Linked DNA regions of Homo sapiens: region 1 is linked to region 2. Evidence: fine-mapped expression QTL. A gene starts in region 2. The other region holds a variant in brackets. All regions are shown on one strand. Distances are from middle to middle.

Region 1 (4,398 bases), 380 kb after region 2:
GCAAGTTACTTACCCTCTCCAAGCTTAGTGTTCATATGAATAAGATGGGGATAAAAAAAATGCTTATTTCCTCAAATCCAAGAACTATCAATTTAGTTGTACCTTTAGTTTATGTAGCACTAAGGAAAAAAAAAATCCTGCCAACTAAAATATGAAATGCCTTTCAGAGTTGTTAACATGTCGGGGGGAAAGAATGAACTGTAAAATGGATTCTAGGATTGGTCTTAGAAACAATGAAATAGAATAGTCTACTTCCTAGTGTTACTGTGAACAGTGCCAGATGTGTAGCAGTTGCTCACTGTATTTGATGATGAGGATGGTGGTGGTGACGGTGGTAGTGTTTGTGTAGAAGGAAACAGGCCTGGAGGCTGAAGCAACTATGACTTGATGTAAGCAAAAGCTACTAGTCAAGTGCTCTCGTTGCGGATTTTGCTATTTTAGAGTAGAGGGGTCTCCTGACACACAAGAGCCCTGTTGCCTGCAATTCTATGTTACCAGAGGCTGTGAGTGTGTATGCTTTTAGGTATAATATGACCAAGTGGTCATATGCCTATTTAAAACCTAAGGGGAAATGAAGGGCTCAATTTTAGAGTGTGGCTTCTAATCTTGTGTGCTCCTAAACTCTGGTCTACATACTCCCAACGATTAAAGAGACATTTTGCAACCTGAAATGGTTGGGTTCAGACTAGAATGCTTGGGTGCTACCAAATTAAAGGCCAGTAGGAAGCTACTTGGAGAAGCAGCCTCTGGCACTGTGGTAGAGGAGCATTTATCTAGAGACGGGCCTCGCTGGAAGGAGATAGCCACGCCTGTGTCTCAGGAGACTTTAATTAGGGCCATTGGCTTGGCTGCCCCATGATGACAGGTTGAACTTACGCCTGTGGTTCTAAGTCATGAAACCACCCCTGGGAACAGCCCAGCAGAACCATGGGTGGCACCTCCAAGGACTGGAGAGGGGGTAGCCCTGCAGGCGCTGGCTTCTGCCTGCTGGCTTCCAGCTGCTCCCTCCTGGGGTTCCCCACCTGGACCTCACCTGCTTCTCCTGCTGAAGTGTCTTCTCACCGACCTGGGCACAGGTTACTTCTGTGCTGTGCTTTGCTTTATTTCTCCTTTGTCTGCAGACACCACTGGGCCAGCACCAGTCCATCCCGGGTTTTTAGACTCGAACTGAGGTGTCATCTCCTGAGGAGCCCCTGTGATCTGCGCTCCTCTCTGTGCTCCGTGATGCCCTAGGCTTCTCTCTGTCATGGCGTTTCCTGTCCTAACTTTCTGTCTATGTGTGTGTCTCTGCCCTCCTTGAGGAATGGGACCACGTCTTACTCATCTTTGTATTCACTGTGCTTTTCCTGTAGGAGGCCATTTACAAAAGGACACGGGAATGGACAGAGGGGCAAAATATCGAAAGCTGATATTTGGAGGGTCTGCAGAGGAGGTGGGAGGAGGATGGCTTTTCTAAGTATCCTCAGGAATAAGGAGCCACATATGCAGGGGAGCCAAGAAAGGGAAAAGGAAAATTTACAGAATCTATTGCTTTAAAGAGTGTGGGGAGAAAGGGGAGGTGGGACGGTTCTACTCTTGACCTTGGTGGGAGCATGGATTGGGCGGGTGGGGGTTCTGGGCTGATGATGCATGCCAAAGCTGGGTTTCCTAACTGGCCTCAGAGGCTTCCGATTTGAGGAAGGGGGATGGGAGGGCCGAGTGAGCACAGGGGTTGGTGGTTTTCCTCCCCTTCAGAGGACACGTGTCCTTGGCTTCATTTGTAGGTCTTTGCCAAGGTGTCTATGGGAAGCCTCCTTGAGCAAAGGGGCTCCAAGGCTGTGGACGTGTGTGTCTGTCAGTCTGTCTGTCTGTCTGTCTTAGCATGAGGTTTAGCAGGCAGCCTCAGGAAAAACTTACAGCCCGAAAGGGAGTGTCTGGCCATGCTGCTGGCACTCCCTCTTTTCCTAGAGACACGTGTGCAGGTGTCTGAGTGCAGGCTAAGTACAAGTTGCCCATTTCGGCTCCAGAACCCAGCCAGGCAGCTGTTGGCATAGCATCCCTGAGGGAGGTTTCAGCGTTGGGTGGGGAGTGGGGCCCAGATACTGATATCCAGTGTTCTCACCTGGCTAAAGGAGAGCAGCTGCCCCTTGGTTACCTGGAGAAAACAATCAGGAAAGGCTCGTGGTCACGTCTCGGTCCCTTGGATCATTAGGTAGTTGCCCTTGATTTCCGTGAGCTTTATCTGACTGCAAGGGTACATTACACGGTCCCCTTGGATACCACGACAATTGTACC[T/C]GGTCTGTTTCCTCCCAAGAATTTTGGAGGACTTTAAAATTTAACCCGTGGGAGGGCAGGGAGGGAAGTCTTGGTACTTACAAATAAAAAAGCATTACTGCCTTATTCTCCCACCCCCTCCCCCAATATTTACAAATATAATAAATAATAGCTTTCGTTTACTCTCTAGAGCAGGGGCTCTTCAATGTGGGAGTTTACCTCAGAATCACTTGGGTAGCTGTTTGACAGTACGTATGTCTAGACCCTGTCTTCAGAGGGTGCGTCAGGAGGCCTGGGGCAGAGCCCGGATCCTGAGTATTGGGGAAAGGCTCTCCAGGTAATTGTGATGGACACCCTAGACAGAGAACCACTGTGTTAGATGGAAAAGCTTCCTGGTGGCAGAGACTGAGGCCTCTCTTGGTGTCCTGTGCTGTGTATGGCATACAGTATTTTTTTTATTCAGAAGTATTTATTGAACATCTACTATGTGCCGGGCCCTGGAATACATTCGTATCACTGTTCTTGGTGCTCCTAGAGCCCTGGCGGAGGGGCCCTAATTGTGTTGGATGCCAAGAAACCAGATAGGCAGCTTCTATTCATTCTCAGTTGTCATTGGATTATGGTCTTCCTGAGTGGTGTGAGGTAGGCACCCGGAATTATAGCGTTGACGTTGTCCTCTTTCCCAAAAATTGAACATAGCTCACCAAGCAGGGGCCCCTGGAACGTTGTAGCACATGCGATCAATAGATCTAACATGCCACCCCTGCCTTTCCCATTAACTTTCAGGCTAAAGAGCTGAGCTTGGGACAAGACTGGGCTGGATCATTTCCCTTTCTCTTTAATCTAAAAAGAACCTGAAGCTGGCTACTTCCTTGGTGTTCATGGATGGGTGAGAGCCATCTTGAGCCTCTCCTATCTGCTAGACACAAAGGACGTGAAGATGAATGGAGCATGGCCCTCATACTTTACAAATATCATAGTCTAAGGGGAGTCAGAAATGCAGACAGATGTGGGCCGTACAGTGTGACAGGTCCTGAATGTATGCTGAGCAAACTGTGAACAGGCTGTCGCAGCTATGGTGAGTTGTGGGAAAGAGGGGAATCCTTTATGGGACAGTGCTGATTGGACTTCCCAGGTTCCTCCCTAGCCCCGGCCTTTGAGGGGTGGTGTTTGTAGCGGGTGGCTGACCAGGAAGGAAGCCTTACCACCCCTCACCTGGGCTGAGGAGGCTCTGCTTCGTGCCTCTCCCAGCAGTGTCTGCACCTTTGGCGTGGCTAGGACTCCACTACCTGACCCTGTGGCCTGTCCAGTTTTCAAGCTGATGGTCACACGTATCTTCCCAGCTGCGGGGCTCCTTTTGTGTTCACCTGAGACAATCGTAGCTTCTGTTTCTAAGAGCTAGTGCTTTGATCATGTTTTCATCAGAAAAACATGGTTCATGAACTTGCTCTTTGTCTAGATCCTGTAATAATCAGGTTGTGCAGGCATGAATTGTTAGTAAAAATTCATCAGTTTACAGAAAAAAAAAAAACCTAGAAGAAAATAAAGGGACACGTCTAACATTGGTGTTGTTTCTGGGTAGTGCGTGTATGGGGACCATTTTCCTAAGGTTTTTACTTTTCAGGTTATCCTTTCATTTTGGAAAAAGACGATAAATATTATTTCTTAAAACCTACATGTGTTGGTGAGCTGTTGTTACTGAAACCCTTTCCTCCAAGGATGAAGGTTCTGAATGATAAACTTTTTAATGATCACACTCATCCCACTGCCCTCTGGCATCTTATTGGTGGCTGGGTCTGGTTTTACTTTTCACTGAATGTTCCATTTTCTCTGTTGATTGACGATGGCCTCAGGGCCAAGAGGTGACTACTGTCAGAGGATACAGTGTGAACCAAATTGTGCGTGTGTGTACGTGTGCGTGGGAGGGTGTGTATGTGTGTTCCACTCGGACCTTGGGGCACAAGTCCCTCATCCTTTGCTCTTGTGGGAAGACACTGGACCAGGCTGCTTAGTATAGAGGAGAACCAGAGTATCACAGGGCACCCAGGAGGAAGAGAGGCATGGGAGAGTTGAGGGGCATTTCCATACTGCACTAGCATGAAAGCTGTACCACATTCAGAATTTTAGAACACTGATATCATGTGC
Region 2 (4,398 bases):
GGTAGAAAACTGGTTTGTGGTCAAAAATATCACATACTGTAGAAAAGTCTAGAATTCTAGAATGCTAAGGGAATTTTGAAAAGTTCCATTCTCTGATTCCCAATTATATAAGTTTCTCATTGAGACAGCACTCATTGGTATCTTAGCCAAATTCACAATATATTTCCCATAATTTTGGTGAGTGGTTGTTGTTGTTGTTGTTGTTTGGATCATTAAACAGAACAGGTAAGGCAAGGAGCCCATGGCTCTGCTAGATATCCTCTCGTGATGTGGGTCTGCCTTCCCCTAGCCTCATGATTGTCAGATATTAAGCGCTTCCCAGGCCAAGTTTCTAATTGCTGGAAAACCCTTTAGGAGGAATAAAGAATCACCCGAGTTTGGACAGGTGTGAGTCCCAACTCTGTAGGAGGCGTTAGGGGGATTACAGGGATTCTTCCAAGAAACTGGAAGGTTTTCCCCTTGCTTACTGGAGGGTTCTCAGTCCAGTAGCTATTCCAACTATTGGTTATAGTTGCCAGTAATTCAGTAACAGCCACGTGACTGTGACCGAGTCAGTGATCTTTAAATAAAGCCCCAAAGGACAAATTTGTCTTTTTGTCTTGAATTAGGGTGCGTACAGTCACGGAGCCAGTGTTAATAATCTGGAACAACAATGGAAATGTTCTGTGCTATTCGATGATGACAGCAGCTCCTAGCCCTGTGTAGCTATTGAGCTCATGAAATGTGGGTTGTGGGACAGTGAAATGCAATTTTTAATTTTATTTCATATTAATTTAAATATAAATAGCCACACATCGCTAGGAGCTGCTGTACTCAATAGTGCAACTCTAGAAAAATCTTGGAGAAAGAGTGATAAGCCAGATATCTCCAAAGAGGCAAATGAGTAGGTAGAATAAGTTTCTCATCCATCCCAGGCTCCTTAGCCTCTTCAGCAGCTTATTAAAGCTTGAAGTGCGTGAGTACCAAAAATAGAAAATGTCACTAACAAAGATTCATTGTGCAGTAAACGAGAGCAAGTTATATTAAACTGACTTTATTTCTATTTCCAGTTCTAGATTGATATTTTCAAGAGGATCCTTGACACAGAGTATACTACACATAGAAAATTAAGCAAAGAATTATATGGGCCAGATACAGGGTTTCAGGGACATTTTTATGTGGCCTGAAAGAACCTACTATTTTCTTGGATTTGCTGCATTCTAATTTTTAAATAATGCTACTCTATAAATTCAAACACTTCCTATTTATAAATAGCATTTTTGGATTGACGTTTTTCACATAAATAGAGTAATAGTCTTGTATGAATAGTGGTCAAAAATAATACATCTGAGGTCATTTAATACTTTTGACCATTACAAGCTCCATTTAGCTAAGTAACTTTTGCTCATTCTTAGAGAAGGCCACCCTCCTTTTCTTTTTTTTTTGAGACAGTCTCACTCTGTCGCCTGGGCTGGAGTGCAGTGGCACAATCTTGGCTCACTGCAACCTCTACCTCCTGGGTTCAAGTGTTTCTCATACCTCAGCCTTCCAAGTATCTGGGATTACAGGTGTCCACCACCATACCCAGCTAATTTTTTTATTTTTAGTAGAAACAGAGTTTTACCATTTTGGCCAGGCTTGGTCTCGAACTCCTAGCCTCAAGCGATCAGCCTGCCTCGGCCTCCCAAAGTGCTGGGATTGCAGGCGTGAGCCCCTGTCTTTTCCTTAACTCTTCTCTGCCCCCAGCAACTCAGAGGAAATGCATTTATTTCCACCTTATTGCTGCTTGCATTATAATACTGTCTTCCCTCCTCTCCCCACCTCCCTCACTCCCCTTTGCCAGTCTTTTAGGAATACTTTGTCCGAGTAGAAAAGAAGACATTTATAGGCAGAAAAAGTTAGAGTGTGCTGTTGACCTTATGATGCAGACAACATTATGAGGGCAAACTGAACTCTCAAGCCTGACCCAAAGATCGCTTCCTATCATCCAACCATTGCAGATAATCTCCAAGTATCATTTATGCTCATAGCTACTTTTAAAGTACTGTAGTTAATACACCATCCTAGCATAACTCTATATCACAGATTTGTTCTTTGAATGGTTAATTATATTTCATTACAACTGGCTTCCACTGTTACCCTCTATGTTTTATTTTGTACATTCAAAAACGTTATTCTGAAATGGTGTCCATAGGCTTCACCAGATTCCCAAAGGGGTCCAAGGCTATATTAGTCAATTCTCACATAATAAAGACATACTCAAGACTGGGTAATTTATAAAGGAAAGAGGTTCGATTGACTCACAGTTCAGCATGGCTGTGGAGGCCTCAGGAAACTTACAACCATGGTGGAAGTGGAAGCAAACATGTCCTTCTTCACATGGCAACAGGAAAGAGAAATATAATCAAAAGGAGAAAAGCCTCTTATAAAACCATCAGATCTCGTGAGAACTCATCCACTATTACGAGAACAGTATGGAGGTAACCACCCCCATAATTCAATTACCTCCCACTGGGTCCCTCCCATGACACATGGGGATTATGGGAACTACAATTCAAGATGAAATTTGGGTGGGGGCACAGCCAAACCATATCAGACACACAAAAAAAATTAAGAACCCTGGATTAAGGGGCTATCATTGTTAAAATTTTCGTGAAAGATTTTATGTAGATTATTTTGTAATCCAGATAATTATAGAACCTATAATCCTGAGTGGCATGGACAGACTTAATATTCACCCAATTTGAGAATACTAGTGTGAAATGGCATTCCTAGAGCTTGAGAAAGTTCCATTTAGGATAAATAAAAGGAAGTAAGTAAGACTTCTCACAGCAGCTACTAAATTTGGAGCACTTATTCCAAAAGGTTAAAAATATAGCTTCAAAAAAGACATCTTTGATACATGAACAACTGAACATTAATAGATCACTTTGTGAATCATAGACTTTGGGGTATTTTTAGGTTGGGGTATGGGAATCCATCCAGACATTCCTTGAAGGGCCTCTGGTGCTTCATTAGATCCAGTGCTGGTCTTAGCCAAGAGATCAGTTCAGGAAATCCTTATTTTTTTTCCTGTAGAGTGATGTGAAGGCCCAGTGAAGAATTGTCATCTTTGTGTTTACCTCCTCACTGTCACTCTGAAATGCTTGAATGCACTACCTGTTCTTTCTCTTGCTTGTGCACAGGTTGGGCAGATGCAGATTCTGAGACAACAGATTGCCAATGAATTAAATTATTCTTGTCGGTTTGATTCTAAACATCTGGCAGCTGCTCTGGAGAATCTCAATAAGTAAGTGCCAGGGTTTGAAACAGCCATCCGTGGGCTTGGATTGTTTATTATCTACGCACCCCAGTTTCTTCAGTTCTTACTCTTTTAAGTTATTTTTGGGTGGAAGGTCTGAATTTACAGGCTTCCTTGCCACGGATAATCAAATCTGTCTTCGGAGCCTCTTTCCTCAGTATTGTCCCTCCGTTTATCTCTGTCTCTCACTCACTCTCTCTAATGGATTCGTGTATTCAGCAGACAGGTACTGATCACATGATTCAATACATGTCTGCTGAACAAATGAATTCATTAGAGAGAGCGAGTGAGAGACACACCAGACACTGCTAGATACTTGCACAGATTTTAGAAAGCAATTATTACCAAAATCCGCAACTGGCTTTTTACAGGGCTGATCACTCATCATCCAGAGGGCAGTTGGAAGTGTGTTGATTACCAAGAGTGGTTATGGAGGCCTGTCCTAGAGGGAACTCATATCCTCCGCCTCACCAGCAACCTGCTGTCATTTGAGGCTGCCTACTTACAGATAAATAATCTGTGCTTCTCACTCACCAAGTCAGTGCTTTTGACAAAGCAGGTATTAAGAACAGTTCAGTCAATACATGAAAATTTGAATGGTGAATGCATTTGATTGAGGTTGATTCCAAAAGATGAAGTAATTCTAGGTCAAATTTTCCACTTAAAACCAATCACAGGCATGGTTGAGAATTAGCGAGATCAAGCTCTCATTTTACAGATGAGGAAACTGAGGCTTGAAAAGATTACATCACTGCCCTATATTAACTCTTGTATAAATTCATTTACTCACTAATGTTTATCTCCAGGGTTTTTCTTCCTTTAGGGCTCTCCTAGCAGACATTGAAGCCCACTATCAGGACCCTTCACTTCCTTACCCCAAAGAAGATAACACACTTTTATATGAAATCACAGCCTATCTGGAGGCAGCTGGCATTCACAACCCACTGAATAAGGTGAGTAATTAAAATATATAATGGCGGGGATGGGGGTACAGAATGGTATTTGGCCCAGGTAACAGATTACTGTGCAGAAATACCAGAGGAACCTGGGTTCAGACCCCAGAGCCTTCATTCCATTCAGTTCCCTGCCCTTTCTAAGCAATCATCACACTTTCCCCG

Which allele goes with the higher level. Alleles are on the strand shown, and positions count from the first base shown. SD is a standard deviation of normalised expression in the study named.
As copies of T replace C in region 1, the expression in nucleus accumbens of the gene that starts at base 2,379 in region 2 goes up (large effect, 1.1 SD a copy in GTEx).

What was found. PIP is the estimated chance that this variant, and not a neighbour inherited with it, causes the effect. A credible set is the group of variants that fine-mapping cannot tell apart.
Region 1: its variant is the best candidate, but not a certain one, in a credible set for the expression of WASHC5-AS1 in nucleus accumbens (GTEx, PIP 0.87).

The regions. Positions count from the first base shown.
Region 1 is chr8:124,660,710-124,665,107 of GRCh38, reverse strand. All of the region lies in intron 3 of MTSS1 (MTSS I-BAR domain containing 1), which reads left to right. Among named protein-coding and RNA genes, the nearest start is that of MTSS1, 66 kb to the left of the region's middle. The variant T/C (reference allele first, on the strand shown) is at 2,275.
Region 2 is chr8:125,038,665-125,043,062 of GRCh38, reverse strand. It overlaps WASHC5-AS1 (WASHC5 antisense RNA 1), which reads right to left and starts at 2,379. Exons shown (of 2, transcript NR_170219.1): 1 at 2,284-2,379. WASHC5 (WASH complex subunit 5) reads left to right here. Exons shown (of 29, transcript NM_014846.4): 24 at 3,165-3,268; 25 at 4,104-4,233.